Homo sapiens: one gene and its partners. The protein of the gene in region 3 interacts with the protein of the main gene of each other region in a biochemical or structural test. Each region holds a gene or a part of one and is shown on either strand. Other genes may lie near its edges. The genes, in order: UBE2E3, UBE2E2, RNF14 and UBE2E1.

Evidence for each region.
Region 1: the proteins of RNF14 (region 3) and UBE2E3 form a complex in vitro, tested with the Homo sapiens proteins (2 studies listed by BioGRID).
Region 2: the proteins of RNF14 (region 3) and UBE2E2 form a complex in vitro, tested with the Homo sapiens proteins (2 studies listed by BioGRID).
Region 4: the proteins of RNF14 (region 3) and UBE2E1 form a complex in vitro, tested with the Homo sapiens proteins (3 studies listed by BioGRID, with this or other methods).

What each region holds. Positions count from the first base shown.
Region 1 is NC_000002.12:180,975,713-180,983,609, forward strand, and holds the start of UBE2E3 (ubiquitin-conjugating enzyme E2 E3), read left to right. Parts: upstream 1-4,892; 5' UTR 4,893-5,261; exon of another isoform or gene 5,262-5,300; intron 5,301-5,345; exon of another isoform or gene 5,346-5,765; intron 5,766-6,305; 5' UTR 6,306-6,330; coding exon 6,331-6,524; intron 6,525-7,897. UniProt on the Homo sapiens protein: Accepts ubiquitin from the E1 complex and catalyzes its covalent attachment to other proteins. In vitro catalyzes 'Lys-11'- and 'Lys-48'-, as well as 'Lys-63'-linked polyubiquitination.
Region 2 is NC_000003.12:23,199,308-23,206,352, forward strand, and holds the start of UBE2E2 (ubiquitin-conjugating enzyme E2 E2), read left to right. Parts: upstream 1-4,019; 5' UTR 4,020-4,157; intron 4,158-7,045.
Region 3 is NC_000005.10:141,964,860-141,972,110, forward strand, and holds the start of RNF14 (E3 ubiquitin-protein ligase RNF14), read left to right. Parts: upstream 1-4,245; 5' UTR 4,246-4,308; exon of another isoform or gene 4,309-4,921; intron 4,922-5,844; 5' UTR 5,845-6,018; intron 6,019-7,251. UniProt on the Homo sapiens protein: E3 ubiquitin-protein ligase that plays a key role in the RNF14-RNF25 translation quality control pathway, a pathway that takes place when a ribosome has stalled during translation, and which promotes ubiquitination and degradation of translation factors on stalled ribosomes.
Region 4 is NC_000003.12:23,885,940-23,892,151, forward strand, and holds the end of UBE2E1 (ubiquitin-conjugating enzyme E2 E1), read left to right. Parts: intron 1-1,627; coding exon 1,628-1,760; intron 1,761-3,172; coding exon 3,173-3,320; coding exon of another isoform or gene 3,321-3,439; exon of another isoform or gene 3,440-4,569; coding exon 4,570-4,667; 3' UTR 4,668-5,701; downstream 5,702-6,212. UniProt on the Homo sapiens protein: Accepts ubiquitin from the E1 complex and catalyzes its covalent attachment to other proteins. Catalyzes the covalent attachment of ISG15 to other proteins. Mediates the selective degradation of short-lived and abnormal proteins.

The DNA of each region.
Region 1 (7,897 bases), on a different chromosome or scaffold from region 3:
TAAGGCATGATTTTAAGTGACCTTTTCCATATTGGTAACTAGTTATCTCAGTCATTTATTGCATAATACTTCTTTTCTGTATGTTTTAGGTAAAATCTCATCTGTTACATAATTAAATGATCTAATTCTTGGTTACTTTTTTTCAGTGATCTATCTGTCCTTGAGCCAGAGCTTATTGTTTTATTTAATGTGTAGTCTCTTCACGTGACTTTTTTCAGTATTTAAAATTGGTTTCCCTATTTTTTCTTACATCAAATTTAAAGTCCTGACAAATTCTAAAACAGTTTGCTTGAACTTTCATCATTTCTTTTAATTTATGTAAGAACTTATTTTAAAAAACTGTTAAAACAAAACAGCATTTATTTTTGCCAAATCTACACCCCTGCATTTATTCACATCTTTTTTCCCCTCATAAAAGTAGTACCTGCTCATTAAACTAGAAAAACACTGAATATAGTAAAAAGAAAATAAAGTTGTTCATATTCATAGTCACTCTAAAATCTAGGTACTGGTCAACCTTTTGTTTTCAGACATTTTTGTTTTGCTTATTGTAAAAATATGATGCATATTCATTCAACAAATATTTATAGATGATTTACTTTGTGCTCGGTACCTTGAGAGGTATTGAGGCAGGCTCTGATTTCCCAGTAACTAAAATAGACAAACTTCTACCTTAAGTGTATTTTATAATAATCTGTTTTTGTATTTTAGCTTGCTTTTCACAACTGTTATTTTAATAATGGCAAATTTAATTATGTGGGTGAATCAGTATGTGTAATCATTTGCATATTGTTGGACATTTCCAGTTTTTCAGTATCATTTTTCTCACTTTTAGAATGTTTCCTTGAAGTACATTTCTTTTGAAATGGAGAAATCTGGTCAAAGGGTATGGCCACATTTAAGGCTCCTGAAAAAAATTTCCAAATTCCTTTTCGAAACATGTACCAATTTTCATTCCTACTAGAAATGGACAAAGGGATTTTTTAAAAAACAATTTGCCAGGAATTATTATAATAACTAAAAATTGTTTTTGTTATTTTGATAGATATTTCATTTCAACTTTCCTTTCTGGATAACTAGCAAGACTACATTTTTGTTATAATGTTAAATATTTCTTTAAAAATTTTTGCCTTTTGACATACTAAGGTGCTCACGGTTTTGTTTCATGTGTACAGGCTCCTTACCATGACATGAGCCTTTTTTGGTATATACCTTCCCTGAGAGTTATCTCAAAAGAGAAATACAGAAAATAATCACTGAGTTATCTGACGTCAAACCAAGGCTTATGCACCTTTCCAACTCCAGGGCCCAGCCCTTGGTGTAGGACACAGCAGGTTTTCCCCTCAGGATGCAGTGGAAGTGCACCCAGATGTCAAGCGGCACATTGGATTCTGGGGGTCCAAAGACACTGGGACTAACAATGACAAACAAGGCTGTGTAAACTAAGGCTGAGCCAAGAAATACCTTCCTAGTAAACCAATCCAGTCTTTATGGGTAGAGAAAGAAAATTTCTTAGCCAGAGAACTGAGGATACAAGTAACTGGAAAGCATCAGAAACAGCCAGTAAAAATGAAGGGACTCTTAGAAAAGTTATTGACTGGAAGGAAACAAAGTACCTTAAAATCAACAAAATAAATTCATATTTATTCTACATTTTTTACATGTGAGGGATGCTGCTGGTCATGGTGGATAAGTAGAGGTCTATACCCCAGCTTACATAATCATTCAATTCAGAAACTTCTTAGGTAACTCAGTGATAGATCCTGTGAAATTCTTAGTTATACATACTCACAGTTATGTACACAGATAACACTGAGACTCATTGAAAGGCGCAGGAAAAAGCATCTCCCAAACTAGGGAGGTGCAAAGGATTCTGGGGTCTGCCTTATTTGCCCTTAGGCAGGCCTCTTTTTGTCACAACATTTGGTGGATAAGGGGATAAGAGATAATCATTGTAATACTGCAATTGGATTCGGCATCTTCCCTCTTACCACTGCCCTTCTCAGGGTTGTGAGAGGCTGGCAGGACCCCACACCAACAAGAGAAAATAAAAGAGACTGAGAGGAAACAATCTTCTTTGTGGTAGCTGGTGTCTGCTTGTGGAACTATTCTGAGGGACCTTATGGGAAAAGGGCCCTTTTTATATTTTATGAAATAATTGCATTAGGTCAAATTTGTATGCTTCCAAGAGTGCCTGTGAAACATGATCCTTAATTTCAAGGATTGACATAGCAAAAACAAGAGAGAAAAAATAATTACAAAACAGGTTGTCACACAAGGAAGAACTAAACATTAGAAACAATTTACACCTTACAAGTTACTTCTGGTGGAGGTGATGCCAAGTCACCTGGGAGAGGAGCTGTGAGCTGAAATCATTTGAGCAACCCCTTGAGTCAGCTGAATGAAGGCAGCCAGGCACCTCACATTGTAGGGGCAGGGCACTACTGCCCCTAACCTTATGGAGCCATTCATTATCTTTACGGTGACTTTAACAATAGGTATTATTTGTTGAACACCCAAATTCCAGGTATTTTGCCAAGAGCATTATCTATATTATCTACATTATCACTGGCCCTAGTGCTCTCTCCAGGACCAATCTAATGTTTCCTTCTTTGACCTTTACCTCATGCCCCACAATTCCAACCTGAATTAATAGTTCCATTATTAGTTAATTGATGATTAGTAATGCTCTTTTCTCATTCTCTTTACTTCTTTAATACAGCACTTCTCATTCTGCAGGCTACGTTTCTGGCTGCCCCACTGCACAATTGAGCTTGGTTAAGAGCATGACCCATGTTTCACTCCAGTTTCCCAAGCAGTTAGTAGATCCTAAATATTCTGTTGGGTGAATGTTAAGTTAAACTCCATGACTTCAAGTTCGCCAAAGAATCACGGAATCATGGAATTTTTGAGCAGGAGAGGACTTAGAACCTTTGATACAATCTCCTTTTACATAAAAGTAATTGAAATAACTTAACTTGCCTGAGGTCATATGAACTTCGTAGAATGAGGATTAGAATACACTTCCCTGGCTTTTCAACCCAATACTATTTCTTCTGTAGAAGATGTTACCAAACAACTAAATATCTTTCTCCCCTAAGCTCCTTACCCCACTAAATCCTATCAGCAATTGGCCTTTGGGCCTTCAGGCTATTTCTGTTCTTAAATTTCCTAAAAGAACCCATGTTTAACGTACAGCTTTCCTTTTCTGTCTCCCCATTCCAAACAAAGCAAAGCTTCAACTCCAAATTGGCTGGCTTTTGCTGTAACATCACATCGTGTAAAGCTGGGGGAAAATTCTGCTTTTATTTTCACTAACAAGCTTTTCCCACAAGCACTCTTTGACCCAGCCAAATCAAAATGCTTGTCCACACACAGACCATGATCTTTTTTGAGGCATGAGATATTCTATCTGTTCATTCTGAGTGGAATATCCTTACTACTTATGAACCTAGCGAACTTTAATGAACTGTTCCCCTTCTGGACTAGGAGCTCTTAGCACAGAGTAGAGACCTGGCTTTAGTCACACAGCAATTGAATGAGTGTATGTCCAGCACCTAGCAACATATAGCCCTCAATAAAGTTAACTGAATGACTGTGTCTTTGGAAAATTATGGAAATGTAACTTACTCTTTAGAGTTGCTATCAAGCCTTTACCAAAAGTTTTCTATTAGGAGAAATAGTAAGCAAATACGTTGGCTCACTCAGTCTTTTCTTCTTTCCCTTAACTCTATACATCTTTTGACTGCCATTCTCACTCCCTTTGTGAACTGCACATTCTCACAGCACCCCTGCCCCTGGACACTTGTGGGAGAGGAATCCACAAATTCCTTTGAGGCTCCATCACCGGAACAAGTTCTCAGTAGCTGGAGAAGGCCTGGGTGGCAAACAGGAAGTTTTTGTATTCTGGCTACTTTGTGCCGTGGGGTAAAAACCGCAGAGTCCACCTGGAGACTGCAAAAAGAATGGTAGAACAAACAAAACTGTCACTATCTCCACCTAAAGCTTTTCTGGGTGGACATTCTGACTCAACATCACTCAGAACTTTTCTTTCCAGAACTGGCTCCTCATGTGCAAGACAGAAGAGTCCCGCAGAAAAGTGTCATGTTTTAGCTCTCATCGCCACCCCCCAACCCCAAACTCTTCTCCTTCACTTTTAAGAATGTTGAGCGGGACATTTTAAACACTGTTTTGGATTTTTAAGGTTTCAAATAATCCGAAGGACACTTCCCTTTGGCAGCGACAGTTGCAAGCTATGAGCCAAAAAGAAATAGAGGTTGTTCCCCTAATCTCCAAATACATTCTACCCTCTTCAATTCCCAGGACCCCAACTTGTCCCTTCCTCCAGCTTACGCGAGGGGCAAGTGGCAGCTCTTCTCCGCCTGCGTGCCTGGCCTCGTCAACAACACCCATTAGTCTCCCGTCTCCCGGGGCGGCGGGGGACTCCCAACCACGCGCCCAGGGCCCTTGCCCAGGTACTGGGGCCCCGGGAGCCACGACGGCCCCCGCGCAGGCGGATGGGATGGAACCAGCCCTGGGGACGCGGGTAGCCCAATGGGCAGCCTCGCCCCGGAGGCGGGCCCAGGCCGGAAGCCACCCCGCGGCACAGCGGCCCCGCGATACGGTGCCCGCGCCCCCGCCTTCTCTGGCACAGGCTCCGCGGCCAAGGGCGGCAGGGGCCAGCCCGCCGGGTCCCCGCCGCGCTCTTTGTCCTGGCCGCGCGCGGGCGGACGCGTGCACCCCCAGGGTGAGGGGAGGTGTGGAGAGCGCGCACGGGAGCGCGCGGGAACAGCTCGCGCCCGCCGGGCGTCGGCGGCGCGCGCCCCTCCGCCAGGCAAGCAGCGAGCACGCGCGTCGCCGCCGCGCCCGCCCCTCCCCCCCGCGCTCGCCTCGGAACTTGCTGACTGCGCGGCCGGGAGGAGCCGAGCCGGGCGGCGGCGGCGGGAGGCTACAGCGCGCGGGGGTCTCCCGCGTCCCCTCCGCCTCGCCGGGAGCTCGCGCCCTCGCCCAGCCGAGCTCCCACCCCCGCTTTTTTCCGAAGGCGCTGGGCGGCGCCACCCTCCGGCCGGAGCCCGGCACTGCACAACCCCCTCCGACTTTCAATGTTCCACACTCCCCGGCCAGAGCCTCCTCGGCTTCTTTTTTTCCCTCCCCCCCCTTCCCCCCCCCACAGCTGCCTCCATTTCCTTAAGGAAGGGTTTTTTTCTCTCTCCCTCCCCCACACCGTAGCGGCGCGCGAGCGGGCCGGGCGGGCGGCCGAGGTAAGGCGGCGGGGCCGGGGGGCCGCGTGGGGGGCGGCCGGGGCGGCGGCGGCGGTGGGGGAGGGGGCGGGGGCGGGCAGCTTTGTTCGCGCCGGGCGCCCGCGTCGCCGGTGTCCGCGAGCCGCGGCGGGGCCGGCTGGGCTGCTCGCATCACTTGGCGCCCGGCGCGGCGAGCGCTACCCGCGGCCCCCGCGCGGCCCTCCCCACAAAGGGCCGCGGAGCTGCGTGGCCGCCGCCGCCGGCCGTGGCTCGCCTCCGCGGGCGCGGAAATTTGTTGCACTTCTTGGGGCTTTGTTTATTTGTTTGTTTTTTCTCTGGGTTTCTTATTTTTTTCGTTATTTTGGACAAAATGTCGGTCCGTGATATAAAAATTGAGCGAGGAACCTTGGTGGCATTGGGAGCTTTGCAGAAGGTGCAGTTTGAATTCTGCTTTTCCCAGGGTGGCAGCTCGGTCTTGGCCGGATGAATCTTCGCTGCTGGCCGTGGAAACAGCTAGAGCAGCTCGTTAGTTGATTTTTAAATTTCCAAGTGTTGTGTTTAAAGGCTTTACGTGCACTGAGGAGGAATCGCCACCTTAAATAAGCATATGGGCGATTAACAGGGTGTGTTTTCCTCTCGGAAAGGGAATTTGGTAGCTTTGACCAATGTCAGTGTGTAAATATTTAGACGTTATTAGTGACTTTTAAACATTTTTCAGCGAGATCTGTTATTTACAGTGTGTCATATGTTATTAATGCTTGTTGCCTAAGTTCCTTGGCAAATCTGTTTCATGCCTTCTGAGAAAGTAGACAATTGATAGATTGTCCAAGAGACGGAAAAAAATGTGAGTGGGTTTTCTAACTTGAGTTCGGCAAATCCCTTAACGCTGGCGTTGTGTGACACATCACCTCCCTTGTACGTACCCCTGTTGTACGATGAAATAAGTGTGAACACTTTTGAAGCTTTTTCATTACAAGACGATTTTAGATGACTAGAAGAAAATGCTGTTGGTTTATTTCCTAGATTTAACATTTTCTCCTCCTCCTCCCCTGTTCTCTTTAAAAGTTTTCCAAGAGATAACTTCACCAAGATGTCCAGTGATAGGCAAAGGTCCGATGATGAGAGCCCCAGCACCAGCAGTGGCAGTTCAGATGCGGACCAGCGAGACCCAGCCGCTCCAGAGCCTGAAGAACAAGAGGAAAGAAAACCTTCTGCCACCCAGCAGAAGAAAAACACCAAACTCTCTAGCAAAACCACTGCTAAGTTATCCACTAGTGCTAAAAGGTAATGTGTAAAAGAAGGATCCAGCACACTTTGTCAGGTTGTCTTCCAGGTGGTTGGACGCTTTTGTTGGTTTTACCTCAATAGCAGTAGTTCAGAAATATTTACTTCATTATCAGTTTAATTGTACTTGAATGAGTTGTCATTCTTTAGGTGGTATGTAAGCAACATTACTAGAATTATACTTTTAAGCAAACTTAATTCTGTACTTCGGTAACTTCAGTTAAGAGTGTCCTTGAGTAGAGATTAGACTAACATTCTGACAGATTGTTTAAGGAGTTGGCAAGGAAAATTTGGTGAACCCAAATTAGATGGTACTTTGGGGATGTTCCTTTTATGAGTCATAATCTTCTTTAATGAAATTGACACTTCCAGAGATTAGCAGTGCCTCTCTTCATGAAACTTAATGATCAGAAATGATCATATTTGCTAGAAAATTTGCAAATTCAGGCCTTTGCTATATTTGAAAGCAGATTTAAAATTGTGCTGCAAATCTGCTTACAGTTTTACAAAACATGACTTTCAATCGTATATCACAGGTAACTTTCCTGGTTAAATTATGATTATCCCTTCCTGTGCTTGTGAGGGCAAATCAAACTGAAAAGTAGCCCTTTACAATTTGAGGTGTCACTAGTGATAGAAAACTTGCATTGTCCTTGGGCCTCTTCACTCTGAAACTTGTGGATGTGCTTGACAAGTTAATACTCAACAGCAGGAGAAACATATTTAATTGGATGTAAGTGAAAGATCATTTGTTTCCTATTGATTGATGTTTTCTGATGGAGAAAAAAAGATTCTGTCAATGAGACTCTTATCAGTGGTAGTAGTAGTGGAATATCCACAAACTCTAGTAATTATACATAAAATGTATAATGTTTACAGCATTAACCAATTTTGACATTTTGTTAATTTTTATTGATAACTAAAGGAAAAAGAATATAAAAACTGATCAAATATTGCATTCTGTGGTGATTCATAAATACTCATATTTTTCTATGGATTTTCACCCTTATTGTCTCAGTAATGAAGTATTAATAACTTGATAATATTTTTGAATGGCAGCAGTCTTTGACATAATTTAAAATTCTCAATTTGGTATAGTGTTGATGCGGAACATATTAGACACATCTAAAGTTTTGAAATCATCTTAAATTTGAATCAAATCAGAGAACTGCTTTTCTCCCCCTTAACTCAGGCCTATGTATTTTCTCCTCTTTCTCTCAATGTTTATTAAATTTAAGTGCTGTACCTAAAATCAGGGAAAACAGAAATGGTTAAATTAGAATGTCAAGTAGTCTTTGAAAGTTTTTCACAAGTAAAGATATTTGTAAATTTTAAACTTTTTTTTTGACAGATAAAATATTGTCAGAACTGTT
Region 2 (7,045 bases), on a different chromosome or scaffold from region 3:
TACTGAGAAGTTAGGTGCAATAGTCCATTTCAGGAGTTAGTGGGACTCCTCTCCCTGGAAGACCTACCATGACAGCAACCTCCTTGATACATGGAGAACTTGAGGGGGAACTTCATCATTAGTGAGCAGAGAGCATGGTGTAGTAATCATCTATTGATGCATAACAAATTACCCTTAAAACTTAGTGGCTGAAAATAACAAACATTATCTCCAGATTCCAGAGTGGCTTAGCTGGGTGTTTCTGGCTCAAGGACTTTCAAGAGTTTGCAGTTAAGATGTTGATCAGGGCTTCATTATCTGAAGGCTTAGCTAAGGCTGAAGGATCTGCTTTAAAGCTTACACATGTGGATGTTAGCGGGTCTTATTTTTTAGTCACATGGGCCTCTCCACAGGGCTGCTCACAATATGGCAGCTAGCTTTCCCCAGAGTCAGTGACAGCAAAGAGAGAGAGAGAGCATCAGTGTGTGCGCAACCAAGATGGAAGCCCTAAACTAATCTTGGAAGTGACATACCCTCCTTTCTCACAGCATTACACCAACCCTAGCATGACGTAGGAGGGGATTACACAAGGGTGTGAATACCAAGAGGCAGGGATCAGTGGGACATCTTAGAGACTGATTACCATACTCAGGCAACGTCTAGGGGTGAGAGGAGCAGCCACACTTCTATGTTTGCATCTTAATTTACATGAATGGCACCCCCTGATACTTTGCAGTGTACAAAATACACGATCATACATAGTGGTCCAGGTAGCAGTTCCTGAACAAATGGGGAAGTCAGGGGAATTTGTCCTCAGTACACTTCTATTCCCTGCTAGAATTTCATTTATTTATTTATGAAACAAACATTTTTTTAAAGCACCTGGTCGTACCTTTGCGTTGGTACTGAACTAGGTAGGTAATGGGGTTGCAGTTCTATTGGAGTTTCAATTTTCCTACACCACTGTTGCCCTTAAGTATCCAAAACATTCGGGGTGACTACAGCCTCCTTCAAGCCAGACAGTATGCAACAGATCATTGTTTTCTATCCCATTCTTTGGAAAACCTGAGCTAATATGATGTTTCTTTCAAAGGGTATAATATAAATATGTAATAACCCCTGATAATTGGGTGCCTAACAAGAACAGAAGTTGCCTAAATAAGTAGCAGGGCTCTACCAGTATAATGCTTCTGCTCAAATTCAGCCCAGTTCCCCTGAGAGAGGTCTTTTCTATCACCCATCCAGTCAAACTGGAAAACTAACTGTGGCTCTACTTACTCACGAAGTTGGCAGTAACAACGTTTTAAGAAGGACCCTTCAAAAAACATTCCAATTTGCCAGTTGCAGGGGGAAAAAACGTAGGCTCTAAATTAATGATCAGAAATAAGAAATGTAAGAAAGGAGTGAGTTCATGACGACAGACTGATGGACCAGAGCAGAAAATATAAGGAAGATGAGCTATTTGTCTTGGAGACCAAGTTTGCACCGCAGAAGAGAGAAATAGAGAAAATCAAATAAATATTTATGTCTGTAACACCAGACTCATGGTAAAGTGTCCTTAAGTTCACAGACTCCAGAGCCAAACTGCTGATTTCGAGTCCCAGCTCTGCTCCTCACTAGCTATGTGACTGTAGGTGAGTGACTTAATCCCTCCGTACCTCAGTATTCTCATCTGTACAGTGGGGCTGATTGGATAAAACCAACCTGTGTGGTGGTTGTGACCTAGTATAACTAAAGTGCTTAGCATGCTGCCTAGCACAAATTAAGAACACGGTAAGTACTAATTATTGAAGAAATTAGAAACAATACCTATTGTGTCATCAACTGAAAGAGACCAATTTCTTTCACTCGGTCATTATCTATTGAATATATACAGCACTGAACCCCAGACGACGAAATCCTTTTTCTCAAGGTGCTTTTACGTGGGAGGGCTGGGAGAGGGAGGAAAAAGAAAGCAGAAGGGGGAAACTAATAAATAAGTAAAAAAATGTATTATGTCAGGTGGTGATCATGGAGAAAAAGCAGAGGATGTGGATAGGAAGTTCTGGGGGAGGAGTGGGAGGAAAGAATGTTCTAGAGATAGGAAATAGTAAGTACACAGGTCTTGAGGCTGAGGAATGCTTGGTGTGTCCATAACTGCAAGGCCGGTGTGGCTGGAAGGAGACGAGGATGGAGTGAAATCGTACAGCTTGAGGTCAGGGGAATCCTGGCTGGGAATGGTGGGCACATCATGCAGGCCATGTATCCATATTTTGCACTTTGGCTGTTGCTCTATGATGGGAAGCCACTGGAATTTTTGAGAAGAAGAGAGACATAATCTAATCTTTGTTTTAAAGGACAGTCGGCTGTGTGTAGGTGTTGGGGAGGGAGGAGGCGGAGAGTGGGAGGTAGAAAGATCAGGTAGGAGATAATTATTGAGAGATGATGCCTTAGACCAGGACATTAGCAGTGGGGAGGGGAGTGAGACGGAGTGGACATTTTCACCATATATTTGTGAAAACAGAGTCAACAGAATTTGCTGACGAATGTGATGCTGAGTGTACAACAGAGAAGGTTCAGACATAGGGAAGTTCTGAGGACAAGGATTTTTTTCTTTTATTCAATGTCATATATCTACCACCTAGACAGTGCCTGGTATCAATAAATATTCCTTGAATAAATGAAAAGGGTAACTGATTTGTATTAAACCCATTTTGAACTTAGTAAATAGCAGTTAAAACATCTACAGTCAAATGAAGTACTGTAGCAACCATAATTTCAGCAATTAAGCAGTGAAAGATCTTCCAATCCTTTCCTCCACAAAGATAGAAGTTAATTTTGCTGCATCCCTGGACACCCCGTTGCCAACGACCCAGCATTCCGTTGGTAAGTGAGGCTGGAGGTTGGAGTGGGAGAAATTTCGTGGAAGCTAAGTTCGCAAAGCAGGTACGTTTTTTTTTTTTTTTTAAACGGTTATTTGGGATGAGGAGTACAACGGAACCTAATGTTCCCTCATGCCACCTACAGCACTGCTACTGTTCCCATATCCTTCAACTGGGCATGAAGGCAGCTTCCCACTCACTCTGACAGTGGTGCACCCTGTACCCCCACCCCTCTCTTCAATACCCCAGGGCTAAACGGCCCGAAGCTCCTCTCTACCGGCTGGTGCGCATTCTGGGCCAGGGCGAGCCAAAAGGCAGAAGGGCCTTCGTGCTGCAGTGTCTGGTGAAGACTCAGGCTTAGCCTGGAAGAAGTTTCCAGGCCAACGTGAAGTTTTCCTGTCTTGGGTACATGCGAGCCCCACGCGTCTGCGAGTTTGGGTTAGTGTGTCAACAGGGTCAGTCCCCGTATCTACTTTGCGAAAGCTTCGAGGCGAGCGTGAAGTCAAGGGCTGCGGTGGATGGGGGTAAAAGGCCTCCTCGTCCCACTGCCTGCACCGTCTTGGGGTAACCCCTAACCCCCAGCCGGCGTTTCCCTTTAATGCGCGTGCCCGGCAAGGTCCTCGCGTCCCCTCCCCTCAAGCCACCCCGTCAGCCTCGGTTTCCCCCACTTCTCCCCGTCCTTGTCGTTCCTTCCCCGTGGGACGCCCCTCGCTCACCCCCGTCAGAGCCCAGTCTGCGCGCGGGACCCAGCTGTCACTTTACTTTTCCTCGCCGCCTCCCCACCCCCTCTCCCGACCGGCGGGGCAGCCCGCCCGGGCGCGCTCCCGCCCCCGCCCCCTCGCGGCCGCGCGCCGGAGGAGGAGGGGCGGGGGGAGGAGGGAGGCGCGCGGCGCCGCATGGCCGACGTGGGGCTCGCGCTCTCGCGGTCTCTCCCGGGCGGGCGCGCAGGCACGCGCACTCGCGGGTGCGCGCGCGGACGGCCGGGCGGCGGCGGCTCCCGGAGGTGGTGGCTTCACTTTCCAGGACTCAGGGGCAGCCACAGCGACAGCCGCGGGCAGCAGCCTCAGGAGCCGGAGCTGGAACGGCCGGGGGCGGCGGCAGCGGCGGCGCTGAGGGTGAGTCCGGGCGGGCGCGAGCGCGGCGGGGACAGGCGTGGTCGGGTGCGTGGTGCGTGGGTCCGGCTTTCGGTGACTAGACGGTCCGCAGGGGACATCCCGTCCCTGGGGCCTCCCCAGTCTCCCTCCCCCTCGCGCCTGGGCAGCTCTCTCCCAGGGCTTCGGCTCGAGCCTGCGACCTGCACGGACACCCCCCCCTCAGGTATTCGCTCGGGCCGCGCCGGTGCCTCCCCTCCTCGGGCGTCCTCCCTCTCGCTGACGTCCTCCTCACTCCCCCGACCTCCCCTCCGCGTCGCAGGTCTCTGCTTACACCGCTCGTGCCCTAGTTCCCTCCTTCCTCGCTCCCCGTGCCCGGTTCCCTACGCCCCCTCCCGCGAGCCTCCTGCCCCCGTTTCTCGCCCTTTCTACCCCTCCCCCTTCTTCCCATCCCCCCCTTCTGCCTCTTCTCTCCCTGTCCTCCTTCTACCCCCTTCCGTTCTCAGTTCCCCATCCTTCTCAACCCTCCCAGCGCTTTCCTTCTCCTAGCCGCATCCTGGAACTAAGTCTTTTCAAAAGTACAGGATAAATGTCACGGTGGAAAGTGCCCGGCTTGATCTTTTGCTATTTTCCCTAATTGCATAATTGCTGCACATGGTGTGTCTCCTGGCGAGTGCCGGGTTTGGCTCCTTCGCCGCCGCACCCCGGTGGCCCGCCCGGAGAAGACCTTGTGGGGTATATTTGTGTGTGTCCTGGTGAGGGGTGTGTGTTGTATTGGTCTTTTGTGATGCCTGGCGCTTGTCACAGTTTGGAACCGAAGCCCATTTTTCTCTGGTCTCTTCTCTGCAGCCCCCACTGGCCTGGTTTGAAACTGGATTCCCTCTGTCCTCTCCCCCTTCCCGCCCACCCCACTTCTCCCCCTCTTTTCTCCGATCTCTCTCATAATGTTTTGATCTTTTTGCCCTTTACCATTTCTAATGAAGATAAAGCGTGGCTTCTTGTGGCTTTTTTCCCCCACGACCAACCAGAAATGTCCAATCCATCTTCCCTTAAGGAAATTAAGGCTGCTTTAGAAAGACATCATCCTGTGCTCGGTGGCTGTTAGACCCATTTGCATGTTTTCAAGATTCATCGTTTTGTATTGTGTATTCTTGAGAGTCTACTAAAATATTTTTATTTAAAAGTACGAAAGGAAGTGCTAGGGTTTACCCTCAAAGTATCTCGCGGTTCTAAAGGATTTTACGCTCTTCTTAGTTTTTAATCCCTGATTTCTTTAAAAAGTATGTTTCTAGATATGTGATAATTCAGTCTGGACTTTGTGAATCTAAATATTTGCCTTTACTACGGCAATTTGGATGCTCCTTGGCTCTTTGGAATTCTGTATGTGGGCTGACGCTGAAATAGAGTGTTTTCATATAATGCCATACCCCATTCTCTTTCCCCTGCAGCACCTTTTACCCCCAAATCAGGTGTTCCACTGTTATTTTCTGCATAAATGTCTTTGCAGTTAAATTTAAAGCTGGATATTGCTGTGTGCATATACTATATATTTATTTTACATTTTAGAAAAGTTTAGAAACATGAGTAGGAAGACAGCAAGACATATATGACAGAATTAAACGCTTTCCTGTTATAAAAGCTTAAATGAACACTTGGTTTTGCAGTTTTATACTAGTAGATACTGTTATAAGGCTTACCTGGGTAGTAGGCTGGATTTATGGAATGACTATAGTTGCCTTTATGTAGTCAGTAATATTTCAAGCCAAATCATTTCATTTTTATGGAACATGTGAGTTTCATTCACTGTATGTTGCTAATTTCCAGGACTGTAATTACAACATAGGGTACATAGCTAATACAAGCTTAGACAGTTTGTGTTGAAGAAGTAACAATATGTAAGCCTCTTAATATAGTTTTAGGAAGGACTACTTATTTTATGGTTAAAAATTAAATTTTACTTTGAGTTATGAAGTAAGCGTATTTATCTCTCTCAATATCTTTGAAAGTATCATTGGAGAGTAGCTGTTTGTTTATAACCCTGGGATTTAAGTTTATCTTCCCTGTAGATGAGATAATCGGATCAGATTAGCTATTTAGGAATTAATTTTAAAATGCTAATTTAGAAGATAATGTTTAAAGGATTTTAATTCAGGAATTTTTATTCATTTGTACTTCAGAGAGACAAGACATCAAGTTTACACTTACGACTAATTAAATTGATTCATAGACTACTTTTTCTTCATAAAAATTCGTTGCACCTGAGTGGTACAATAATTTTTTTCTATACTTTTTCTGTAATCAAGCATTCAAAAAACAAACCCAGGAGAAATTCCTTTTATTATTGATATTTGAAAAAGAGATGTGAAAACTTTATTTCTAAAAGTTCCTATAGTGGTTATCAATGGCCTCAGATGGACTTATCATTTGTAGGTTAACATTTGGATGAAATATGTCTTAACTCAAAAGTGGGAATAATTCTTTTCCTTAATGTGAAACCAGAAATTACACCTCTGTTGGGGAATTTCTAATAGTATTTTTATTAGTTCTCTGGTGAGACTAATTTTTATTTTAATCTTCCTCTAATATTCGGCAGTAGAAATTTGAGTTTCAGATTATGGCTCAGATCACATCATTGAGTAATCTTTTTAAGTAATTATATAACTATGGCATTCGATAGTATGTAAATGCACATAAATAAGAATATTGAGAAGAATGTGTGGCTTTATAACTAATGTTATACACAACTGAAACTCTCAGCATAGTTTATTAAATCATAGTTTATTACGCTGAAGCTGCATCCTCAGTATAGAGAATATTATTTCATTGAGGTACCCATATATTTGTCATGGAATGGATTGCTCCTGTTTTAAAATGTATAAAATGATTTCTCACTCATTTCACATTTCTTAAGGTATTGCTGGCAGCATTTTGCTATATCTGAGCACCTTTCCCTGAGGATTGTTCTCTTTTTCACTCTCATGCATGCCGCCCTATCTGATATGCCATTATGTACATACTTACAAGATTTTAAACTTCTGATATATTTTAACTGAAAGAAGGTGAAAAAAAATATTAAATCCAAGAATGAGAATTTAGAGTGAAATAAAAATGAAA
Region 3 (7,251 bases):
CAGGTGGTCCACCTGCCTCGGCCTCCCAAAGGGCTGGGATAACAGGCATGAGCCACCACGCCTGGCCTGAAACCTCTAATTTTTTTTAAAAAAAAACAATGTTTCAGAGGCCCACATGATAATAGACTTTTAAGATCTACATGATGAGCAAATACACAATGACAAGAGACCAGCAAGAAGTCAGGGACACTTCTGTACTGGGGTAGGGCTCATTAAGGTTCAGTTTTATCCAAAAGTTGGGCAGGGTTTTCCTCTCCACACTGCTGCCCCTCTGTGTTCAAGGGCTTGTTGCAGGAGTGCTTGCGAGTGGTGGCCATGGAAAAGGAGGCAGTCCCCCCTGGGATGGTGGGATGAGTTCAGCAAAGTTTCGGGACAGCTACCAGATGCCAGTGATGGATGGGAACAAATGCAGGCACCGTCAGGTCTGCTAACCCCTATAGTGACAAGCCATAGTTTGTGACTCACTTCTACTCTCCACTCCGTGGCCTGGGTCCCGACCTCTGGTCTAGGTGGTACACTGTAACCTCTCCTCTCCCTAGGCTCCGTCATCATCCGGTGTCCCTGGGGACAGGGGGTGGGAGTTGGGTCTCTTTCTCTGTCTGTGTTCTCATTCTCACCTATCCTTAAGTCATAAACTCGAATCCTAACTTCCCCAGGGCCTTCCCGTTTAGTTCTTAAGGCCAGAACTATTTTACTCTCTGTGAATTTGTTACAAAAAACCCTTATTCTCTGACAGGCTCCTGGAGAGAGTCAGACTGATGAGGAATCGGCTCTAACCCTGGCTCCACCACTGTGTGATACTGGCCAAACCTTAGTGCCTCCATCATCTTTAGCAAACTAGCACAGGAACAGAAAACCAAATACCACATATTCTCACTTGTAAGTGGAAGCTAAATGATGAGAACACATGGTCACAAAGTGGGGAACAACACACACTGGGGCCTACCTACTACAGGGTAGAGGATGAGAGGATGAGAGGAGGGAGAGGATCAGGAAGAATAAAAAGTACTAGACTTAATATTTCGTCACTGGGTGACGAAATAATCTGTACAACAAACCCCCGTGACACGAGTTTACCTACATAACAAACCTGCACATGTACCCATGAACTTAAAAGTTAAAAAAAAAAAAAAAAAGTGGCCCAGGCGCCGTGGCTCACATCTGTAGTCGCGGCACTTTGGGAAGCCAAAGCGGGTGGATCACTTGAGCCCAGGAGTTCAAGACCAGCCTGGGCAACATGGTGAAACCCCATCCCTACTAAAAATACAAAAATTAGCCAGATGTGGTGGTGTGCACCTGGAATCCCAGCTACTCAGGAGGCTGAGGCACGAGAATCGCTTGAACCCTCTACCGGGAGGCAGAGGTTGCCGTGAGCTGAGATTGTGCCACTGCACTCTAGCCTGGGTGACAGAGTGAGACTCGGTCTCAAAAACAAAACAAAACCCCAAAGTATAATACACCTGACTTCAACTTTATGACATTGCTGTCTTTTATTACATCTTTTTATATTAAAAATAAATAAAAATGTCATAAATAGTAATTGTGTAAATATAAAAGGCCTTATTAAAAAAACAAATCTTAGTGCCTCAGTTTTCTCTTCTGTCAAGTGGGCACATAAAATTACCTAAGTCATAGGGTCCTGGGCATTTAAATGAGAGAATGTACGTGAAATATTTAGCACAGTGGAGGGCTAGGCACACGGGGAGACTGCAGTTTAAAAGACTAACCAGGCACATGAGACCAAAGACACAAAAGTCTGTTATTTTCCTAGAGTCAAAAACAAAACTTATTAGAAGGCTGTCTTTACCCAATCTTGTCCTCAAAATTGACTCTAAATCTTTAGTTCACTTTAAACATTCAGTAAATTATTAACACTGCTTTGAAATTCTCTTTCTATTCTCTCTATCCTGTGACCTCTGACATGATGTCACAATTCACCTTCTGCTCTGACTTTGTGAGGATTTCCCAAGCTGGTTGGTGCATGGGCTTCCTCACTTTTTTCCTCACGAAGAGGTCTCTGGTCTCCCCTCTCTGAGCACTCTGAGGTAGGGTTGCTGTGTGTTTTGCTCTTGGTCTAATTCCTTTGGCTAAACATGAATAATTATATTAATGAATGGCTTTGGAGATTCTTCTTCCGTCCTTTGCATTTTTCCGAGATATGTTTCTGGTTTTGGTATCTATTAGAAGGGTATTTTGGTTTCTGTTTTGTGACAATCAAGATTTATAGTACAGAAAATTAGAAGTGATTATTTCTATTTCAAGGTTCTTTCTGTGGCAGCCAGGTAATCCCTTGGGTGCCCTGATTTACTCACTTGGTTTTTTTCTCTCTCCTGGGTATAAGACCAACTACATAATTTACAAAGCCCAGGGCAAAATAAAAATGCAGCCTCTCATTCAGAAATTATTAAGAACTTCAAGAGGGTGAGAGCACAGCATCAAATCAAGAGCAGGGCACTTCTTTTTTATTTTAATTTTTCCATAAGTTATTGGGGTACAGGTGGTATTTGATTACATGAGTAAGTTCTTTAATGGTGATTTGTGAGATTTTGGTGCACTCATCACTCGAGTAGTATACACTGCACCCTATTTGTAGTCTTTTATCCTTCGTCCCCCTCTCATCCTTCCCCCTAAGTCCCCAAAGTCCATTGTATCATTCTTAAGAGCAGGCCACTTCTAAATCTGGGGCCCTTCTAAGTGCAGGGCCCTATGTGACTGCACGGGTTGCTGGCCCATGAATCTAATCCTGCCCGGGAGGCAATGGTGGTAAAAGCTTTAGAATCCTGTAGGCTTGGGTTAGAGTCTTAGCTCTGCAAGTTACTCTTTTGGAGGAAGAAATATATGAAAAAGCGGACACAGGAGCTTATTAGATTGTGAGGAGCACATTAGTTTGATGGGTCCCAGGAGAAGGAGCCAACATTTCTGTATTCCACTTAAGCGCTGAGAACGGTGCTTTGTACCTAAAAAAATTTTTTAATTAAGACATAATTCACATGCAATAAAATTAACTCTTCAAAAGTATACAATCCAGTGGTTTCTAGTACACTCACAAAGTTATACAACTATCACTGCTCTCTAATTCCACAATATTTTCATCACCCAAGAAACACCATATCTATTAGCGGTATCTATTAGCAGTCACTTCCCATTCCCTCCTGCCTTAGTTTCTGGCAACCACTAAACTACTTTTTGTCTCTATGGATTTGCCTATTCTGGACATTTCATATAAATTAAAAACAATATATGGCTTTTTGTGTTTGACTTTTTTTTTTTTTTTTTTGAGACGGAGTCTCGCTGTTACCTAGGCTGGAGTGCAGTGACTCACTGTAACCTCTGTCTCCTGGGTTCAAATGATTCTCCTGCCTCAGCCTCCCTAGTAGCTGGGACTACAGGTGCCCGCCACCATGCCCGGCTTATTTTTTGTATTTTTAGTAGAGACGGGGTTTCACCATGTTGGTCAGGCTGGTCTCGATCTCCTGACCTCGTGATCCACCCGCCTCGGCTTCCCAAAGTGCTAGGATTACAGGCGTGAGCCACCGCACCCGGCCTTCTAAGGGTTTTATAGTTTTAGTTCTTACATTTAGGTCGTTGATCCATATTTAGTTAATTTTTGCATATGGTGTGAGGAAGGAAGTGTATAATTTTAATTCCTGCTTAGCCTGACGATAATCATGTGACCCTTGGTAAGTTCTTGCACCTAAGTCTCAATTTCCTTATTTGTAAAGTGAGAATAACAAATGGTAGCTAAATCATAAGATTACAGTGAAGATAGAAAATTTACGTAGAGCATTTATCACACTGCTTGAAGCATCCTAACTACTCGATAAATGCGGTCGGTGTTACAGTTATAACATGAGCGATGAATGCGTGCTTCCACAGTGGAGTGCCAGAAAGACCGGCAGCATTTCTGAGAAGGTAAACGGGAGGAAGTAGGCTTGCTTAGTCCACTTGGAGAAGCAGGTCTGGGATTGTTGTGAGAGTCTCTGCCCTAGGTAGACCACTGCCTCATGATCCCCTCTAGAGATTGGTAAAAATTCGAATTCTCGGGCCCCATCAGAACTACTGAAAAGAGCCTCCTGTGAGCACAGGGCTCGCAGTAAGTGGGGGTGACGGTGGTCGCGCCGGCAGCGCCGCCTTGGGCCTGCGGGAGGCGCCCGAGAGGCAGGGGCGACCACGGCGGCTGCGCAGAGTCCTCCCTATGCCGGCGGTCGCGCCAGCGGGATCCGCCTGGCTCAGCTGACAGCTCCCGAGAACGGAAGAGGCGGCGCGCCGGTTGAGCAGGGCGTCTCTAGGCCTGGTCGGCTGGCGGCGGTGAGTGGGCCCCAGGCAAGGGCGGAGGGCGGAACTTTGGGGTTCGGCACTGCCGGGCGGCCGGAAGGTACGGTGGGGATAGCTCTCTGGGCGCGCGAGGCAGAGAAGGGGACCGGGCTGGGACTGTACACTGGGCCTCAGTCCCTCAAATCCGGGACCGGGCGTCCGCAGCTCGGCTGGCCGGGACTCCCTTCGGGACGCTGAGGAGGAAGGGGAAGGTGTGGGCCCTGCTCCTTCGGGACGCCCCAGGCTGGCCAGCAGCTCACACATCCGCATTGCGCCCTCTGATCCCAGCGTTGGGGCGGATAGCTAGCGTTGGGCCTGCCCCTGTTTTGGGGCAGTCGCCCAAACGACGCCGCACGCCTAGTGGCGAGCTGAACCCAGACTAGGACACCCGAAGACCAAATGGATAGAGTGAGAAGGAAATGGGGGTTAGCAACCTGAATTGAGGTACTGGATTCCAAGTGACAGCTTCACAAGCTGAAATCTTGTAGGGTAGGTCATGAGGAACTGTTGAAACTGCTTGGAGTAGAAGTTCTTAGCCCTGGCTGCATATTGGAATCACCTGGAGAACTTGGAAAACTACTGAGGCCTGAATTAATTGTTCTAGGGTGTGGCCTGGGTATTGAGATTTTAAAAAACAGCTCCTCAGAAGATTCTAATGTGCAGTCAGATGGAGAACACTAACCTAAAACCATAAACTGCATGAATGAATCTCTCATCCCATTTGCAAATGTTTTAACAGGAAGAAACAAAAAGCTTAATTCAATTAGCACCATATACTCCCACCTAGTAAAATAAGACAATGTGAAAGGACCTAATACAGTACATAGTAGGTGCTCAATTAATGTAAATTGATTCTGAATCTCATTCTTATCTCATTTGGGAGTTACACATCCGAGAATCTGGTTTTTAATTATGGTTTTGTATATAGTATTTTTGCATATAATTTTAGGGTGTTGATAGGATTCTCCGTAGCCCATCTATAGACCACACTCCCTTTTCCCCTCACCCCAGTGAAGAAGCCTAGCTCTAAAGCATTTAGAATAAAACTTAAAAGTTTGTGTTTGTGTACTCTTGTTTTGTTTAAGTATTTTTCTGTTACCAAAATTAACCTTGAGTGCCACTGGCAGGCTTAATTCATGAACAAGAGAGGAAAAACTGGAGGGGAGTGGCAAATGAAGGAATACAAGAAGCAGAAGAGGAAAGGAGAAAAAAACAAAACAAAAAACAAACTGAAGAGATTGTTTGTTATGGGGCATGGTGTCCTGTACTTTCATATGACCTTGGTGTTCCTCCTTAGCTCCTCCCATAGCTGAGGGCAGACAGATAAAAAGTCCTCAGTCATTGCTGGGGACATGCAAATACTCCTTTAACCACATGGCTCAGTTAGCCTGCCCTAGGAGAGTAACATGCACTTGTAGATTAGGATTGGCTATATGTTAGGATATGTTTGACTTAAGCAGTGATCATGGAAATTCAGAATTTTAATTTGGAGAGGGTCCTAACACCATCTTTTGTATTTCTTTTCTGCAGATGGCAGGATTTTCATAATATATGTAGTATGAGTTCCACATCTTGGCCTCTTACCCAGCTTCAGCAGTCTCAGCTCCACCAGTTAGAGAATAAATGGGATTTGCATGAACTCCACTCTGAGCTGAAATACAGACTGCGGTGTTAATATCCTTTTCTTCTGATTGTTATTAACAGGTACTAACTGACCTCAAGTAGAACATGTAATTGTGTCTTAGATAGGGATGCAGCTTAAGCAGAGCCATGAACTAACATCTCCTAGAAAAAAAGTGTTTTTTGAAAATGAAATCATTTTTAATTTCATAGTATGACCTTTTAAAATGTAAAAAATCCTAACTTTTTACTTATGTACATTTTAATTAAAAATATTTTAGTTGTGAGGGAGGATATTTGCAAATGCAATTGTAGTTCAATATTTTAATTGACTGGTAGTTTTGTTTTATTAAAATGATTTTTGTAAATTCTCATTGCATATTTTTTTCACATTTAAATTATCTGAAATTGCTGTATCTTTCAGTTGATGCTATTTTAAAAAACATTGATTCATACTTTATTTTTTGAGACAAGGTCTTGCTCTGTCCCCCAGGCTGGAGTGCAGTGGTGCAAACACGGCTCACTGCAGCCTCAGCATCCAAGGCTCAAGCGATCCTCCTGCCACAGTCTCCTGAGTAGCTGGGACTACAGGCACACACCACCACACCTGGCTAATTTTTTATAGAGACAGGATCTTGCTATGTTGCCAAGGCTGATCTCAAACTGCTGGCCTCAAGTGATCCTCCTGCCTTGGCCTCCCAAAGTGCTGGGATTACGGGCATGAGCCACCATATCCAGCCAGTTCATACTTTAATTGTAGCTAATTTCTTTTTCTTTCTTTCTTTCTTTCTTTCTTTCTTTCTTTCTTTCTTTCTTTCCTTTCTTTCTTCTTTCTTTCTTTCCTTTTTTTTTTTTTTTTTTTTTTGGAGACAGAGTCTGTCTCTGTCACCCAGGCTGGAATGCAGTGGTGCAATCTCAGCTCACTGCAACCTCTGCCTCCTGGATTCTAGTGATTCTCTAGTCTCGTGCCTCAGCCACCGAGTAGCTGGGATTACATGCGTGTACCACAATGCCCGGCTAATTTTTTTATTTTTAGTAGAGATGGGGTTTTGCTGTGTTGGCCAGGCTAGTCTTGAACTCTTGGCCTCAAGTGATCTGCCTGCCTTGGTCTCCCAAAGTGCTGGGATTAAAGACTTGAGCCACTGTGCCTGGGCCTTGTAGCTAAATTCTTAGTATTACCTAAAATAATGGTAAATCTTTCTTAAAATTATTATCTTTTAAATATTCTTGAGTCATAATGGTGAATCTTTAAATTGGTGACTGCTTGGATTTGACAAAATCTATTATTTCAAAAATTTAATATTATTTTGCTGCTTG
Region 4 (6,212 bases), on a different chromosome or scaffold from region 3:
TAATCCCAGCACTCTGGGAGGCTGAGGTAGGAGGATTGCTTGAGCCCAGGAGTTCAAGACCAGCCTGGGCAACATAGAGAGACCCCCATCTACACAAATTAAATAGAAAACATTAGCCAGGTATGGTGGTGCATGCCTGTAGTCTCGGCTACTCAGGTGGCTAAGGTGGGAGGATCACTTGAGCCTAGAAGTCAAGGCTACAGTGACCCGAGATCATGCCACTCACTGCATTCCAGCCTGGGTAGCAGATCAAGACTCTGTTTCAAAAATAAAAAATAAAACAAGTTTTTAATAGTTTTTGGTAATACCCATCACAAAGAGATATTAAAGAATTAATAATAATGGTGATCACTGCCGTTTAATGAGAGATACCCATGGGTGTGTTGCTCTACAGTTTCCTTCTTTCTCTCACTTAATTCTGAAAACATTCCTGTGAGGTGGACAGTGTCCGAGCTCTTTCTGCCTCTTGGCCAGTTTGGGCCCTGTTCTTCCCATTACCCGCTATTCGGTTGCCCATATTTTCTCCCTCCTTTTTTGCCATGTCATGTTTTCTTCCCCAACTTGTATTCTCCTCTGCTTTTCCTTTGTAATAAGCTCATTCCCCTAACCTGTTGCATCTCTCACACCAAATTTCAGACCAAAAGAAAAACCTGTGATGGGTTTGGGGAAAGTATAGGCCCATGGGTAGGCTTTTTATTCCCTCCCTCTTCATCTCTTCTGTCTCTTAAATGAAGGCATCAGACTTTGTAACCAGTTAGCAGAGGGCATCTTGAAGGAGTTTGTCTTGTTCAGCATCAAAACCCCTGACATTTAACCCTCTGCCTAGTACATGGGCATTCAGTAAGTGAGTGAATAAATCCAATTCACATCGTACATTTATTTAAAAGAGTAGTTTTGCTGGGTGCGGTGGCACTCTAGAAGCCAACACAATGCTTTAGAATGGTATTGTGGCCAAATTATGGTGTACCCAAGTGTATGTAACAGTGATTTATGATAACAGCTAACAGGGTTGGAGGAATGTCTCAAGTATTAGTATTTAGAGAACCCAATTATAGAATACACATTGAAATGAAAATTGAATAACCTGTAACTGGATACTTACCATTCTCCTCCCACCTAACATGGACATACTTTTTACATTATAAACCATCTATTAGATTCTTTTAAAGGTGAGATTATGGAGATAGAAGAGCAAGGAAGAGCCAGTTAGTGGGTCAGAAAATGAAACTTCTGTGCTTAAAATGGTCATAAGTGATGTAGCTGTGAGCAAAAACTGCTCGCATTTGTCACTAATTTCGCTTCTAGGTGCTGAGATGTGTTTCCCATTTTAAGTATTGTTTACACTTTCCTACGTGTCCAGGAGAGTTTTGAGAATTGAGGAAAGTTTCCTGCTTATTCGTAGCTAGGTAGGCTTAGAATGGTTTTAACATTCTTTTATCATCCAGTTTGCTTGACCAATGGCTATGGGTTTGTTGCAGTTCTGCATCCGTTTCTGTACTTGTTTTGTAAAGAGAATCCACACAGTAAACAAAAGAGAGGAGAGAGGTAATCTTTCCATCTCTTTTAATACACTGTAAAAATTGGGATAGTGCCACCATCTGCTTATTTGTTGACGTATTATTCACAGTGCTGGTCCCAAAGGCGATAACATCTATGAATGGAGATCAACCATTCTAGGGCCTCCAGGATCCGTGTATGAGGGTGGTGTATTCTTTCTCGATATCACTTTTACACCAGAATATCCCTTCAAGCCTCCAAAGGTAAGAAATCTCCCTGTATGCTCAAATTTACTAATTCCCACAAGAGAGCAACTGTTGAGGTTTTTCTAAATTTAATTTTTAATCACAGAAACTAGATTTATCTTATGTCCTAATAGATCTGAGTATTTTAACATATACAAAACACTTCTTTAGGTTGATTTTGCCTTATCTGGCAGAGACCATTCTAGGATTAAGTGCTTTGTTTTGATGGTGCTTAAAATTGTGCTATTTATAGTAATATTGTCAGCAACCTAGAATTAATCCCCTGTTTTCCAGCCCATAGAGAAATGTTTTTGAACCTTTCTCGAGGTTAAAAATGGTGTCAAGCCAGGTGCAGTGGTGTGCACCTGTAGTCCAGCTACTTGGGAGGATTGTTTGAGCCCAAGAGTTTGAGTCCAGTCTGGGCAACAAAGCAAGACCCCAAAAAAAGGCAGGGCAGGTCAGGGGGCCAAACAACTAGAGAATCAGAATCTCTTCCCAAAGCTTTGGATTCTGTTGTGCTCCCTGTCATGTTTTGGTCTTGTTCCTTTACCTCCAGGCCTCAGTTTTCTTTCTAGGACAGGTGAGGATTGCCCAAGTCACCCATCTCCTGTACTCAATCTATGATTCTCATTCAGTCAGAAAGAAAACCCCGTCTTGGGGATTAGGTAGACTGCCAGATAAAAGTACAACTGCAGCAACAAGAAGTAATCGAAAGTCACTTTTTTAAAAAATTGGTAAAATTACAGGTAATTTTTACTTTGTGTTTTGGTATATTTCACAAATAAAAATTAAGAGACCCAAATAACACCAGCTTATGTGACTTGTGTTCTGCTGTGGTCCTTGCCCATTACTGGCTCTGCATCCATGGACACTCGATTATATAATAGTAAATTCTGTGATGTAGGTAGACAGGATGTCTATAGGACCTGATGTAACGGTCAGAAAAAAGCAGAAATAGACTTCTCTTCAAATTTTGTTCAGCCTTTTGGGTGTAGTCATTGTTTGCTAAGTATGTTGTTTAATTATCTTTATGTACCCATTATGTTGCACTTCAGTTTTTAAGAGGTATTTATGATTCTCAGTATTTTAAAGCTTACTTTGAGGCAGTGTAGTACTACCAGCTAACACAAGAGGTCAGCAAACAATTAGCTATTCAAACTTGGAAATGTTAATATTTAAAAGATTTAAAATTGCTAAAGATGAAATTAGGAAGTACTGAACTTACCGTCAGTGGACATAACATTTTAAATGAAATTGACACAGTCCCTGAGATGGTATCAATGAACACTTTCTAATCAAATTTATTGTCTATCTTCTTGACAGCTTTAATTAAAACTGCTTTTAGTCACCTTCTTAAGGGTCATTCAGTTGAATATTTAGTAACAAGTTTGTTTGCTGTTTAAATATTGTCTGTCACTTGTTTTTTTTAGGTTACATTTCGGACAAGAATCTATCATTGTAATATTAACAGTCAAGGTGTTATTTGCTTGGACATATTGAAAGATAATTGGAGTCCAGCACTAACCATTTCTAAAGTCCTCCTTTCTATCTGCTCACTTCTTACAGACTGTAATCCTGGTAAGGTTCATAATTCTTTACCTTGTTTTATTCTTCCTTACCTGAAAAATACTTGTTTCCAAAAGCTTTCAAAGGACAAAACTAATTTTTCTGCACAAGTTTGTGAATACAAAAACTAATCGGCTTTTCAAAAGAAAGTTTTAATCAAGTTCAGTCTACTAGTTGAGACACACAACTTCATTAATCAGTATATTCTAGCAACAAGGTATTTTAAACTGAAGACTGACGTAAGTTTGCCTTGGGCTTTTAGTTTCAATTATTCTTCCTCCTTTTTTTTTCCTGTTGCTTAATTTCCCATAGAGTTCTTATAAAACAAATCAGACACTTCTAAATGTCGAGTCATCTGCCTGGCAAGCCTCACCTGTGCCTCTGGGGTTCAGTGAGCATGTGTCCCATAGCTGGTCACTGAGATGGCACTCAATTTTGAAAATGGTAGTTGTTAAATACTTAGTGACTATTGAATTGTGACTTTTTTGGGACTTCATTTCATTTAAAAAATATTTTTCTGTAGTCACAGCTACTAGGGTGGCTGAGGTGTCAGGATTGTTTGAACCCAGAAGGTCAAAGCTGCAGTGAGCCATGAGCATGTCACTGCACTGCATTCCAGCCTGGGTGGCAAAGCGAGACCCTGTCTCAAAAAATATATATATATACACATATGTATATATATACACACACACAGACAAATATATTTTCTAGGTAAACCAAATATAAATTTATTAAAGATCCTAAGATTCAGAGAAATACTATACTTAATTGGAGGTCCAGGTTTTGCCTGGCAACCTGGCTCTTTAACCAGCGTAAAGGTTAATAGTGTTGCACTGCAACAGCCCCGAAGACTTCACAGTATTCACAATGCCGTTAACTGGTGACATTGAGCTAAGGGTCACATGAACACAGCTGGATGTTCATTGCAGTCTGAAGCCTTGACCGTTCCAGTCTCTACTGAACTCAGCCTAACACATAAGAGTAAAGAAACTCCAATTGAGTGTTGTTTGTTGGGAGAAAAATGGAATGAACTAAGATAAAGACAGACCAGTACACTAAAGCCTAAGCATTCCCTCTTCCCCCAACGTTATGTTTTTTTGAAATTTTGATGGAAAAATATCCAGCATGGTGGAGTGGTGTTTCGAAGATGGGTTTGATCACACATACTTTGTCGTACGTATCTACCCAAGCTGTCACTATTCGCTAAAGTTTAAAATGTTCTTTTCCTTTCTCCAAAGTAATCTACATTCTTTTCTTCCAGCCGACCCCTTGGTGGGAAGTATTGCCACTCAGTATATGACCAACAGAGCAGAACATGACAGAATGGCCAGACAGTGGACCAAGAGATACGCTACATAAATTGGGGTTTCACAATTCTTACATTATTTGTCTGTCACAGAAGAGAGCTGCTTATGATTTTGAAGGGGTCAGGGAGGGTGGGAGTTGGTAAAGAGTAGGGTATTTCTATAACAGATATTATTCAGTCTTATTTCCTAAGATTTTGTTGTAACTTAAGGTATCTTGCTACAGTAGACAGAATTGGTAATAGCAACTTTTAAAATTGTCATTAGTTCTGCAATATTAGCTGAAATGTAGTACAGAAAAGAATGTACATTTAGACATTTGGGTTCAGTTGCTTGTAGTCTGTAAATTTAAAACAGCTTAATTTGGTACAGGTTACACATATGGCCATTTATGTAAAGTCCCTCTAAGACTACATACTTTTTGTTTAAAACAAAATTGGAATTTGTTTTCCCTTCTTGGAAGGGAACATTGATATTTAACAGAGTTTTTAGAGATTGTCATCTCATATATATAAAATGGACACGTGGCTATAAAACACCATATAAGAGATGAGTAGTGCGTTTTATTTTATATGCCAATCTACTTTGTTTAAAAAAGGTCTGAATCAGGACTTGTGAAAACCTGTAGTGAAATACCTTAAGCTGTTAACTAACTGTAAGGCGTGGAATAGGAGTTGCTCAGTGGATTGGTTCTATGTTGTGGACTACTTAAGTCTGCATTTGTTACTGTGCTAATAAACAATATTAAAAACCACCTAATAAACACTGCTGTGTTCATTTACTTTTCTTTTGCCTTTTGGTTGCCATTCGCAGATTCTTCTGAAATCGATAGGTATCTGCTTCTAAAACAAGCTAAAAATAATGCATATTTAGTAGGTATTAGTTAGTTACCTATATTAGGATCTGTACTTTACACAGCTGTAGATGAGGTATCCTAGAAAAGGTTAAATAATCTACCCCATTTAGGCTTCAAAGACGAACCCTACTGCATCTTTTTAAAAGCATTTTCTGACTTGCAGATGCTGTAGTAGCAAGTACATGAGAAATGGGTTCCGTCATGGATAAATTGGTACCCTGCCTTAGGGGGCATTTTGGCAGTACATGTCCTGACCCAGCAGTTCTGTTTCTGTATGTCTCTTTCAGAGAAACTTATCTGGATACACATACATTCATTACAGAATTTAAAAAGAATTGGTAACTGTTTGTACTAATATAGACTAAGTTGCATTAGTAGGAAACAAAGCAAACTGGAAGGTACTTATTTAAAAATCATTATGAAAGCATTTGTCCATCTATGTAACATGCATGGGTGGGAAGCTAGATTAATATTCAATAACCGGGGGAAAAGGGTAAGGGGGTGAGTTAGTGTCTGGTAATTTTTTTTTACCAAAAAATGAATTTATGATGAGAAATTTTGAAGAATTATACTGTAGCAGCAATAGCTGATTTGTAAGTATCGTCTTTTATATGTAGTAGTTCTTCACTAGAGCTCATGAAAAAAGTATTCCATTTAAGATGTTACAAATTACTTGATGTTTTAATATGTTCTTTGTTGAATAGCTTATTTTACATTTCAGTCAAAATAGTTATTTCACAGGTG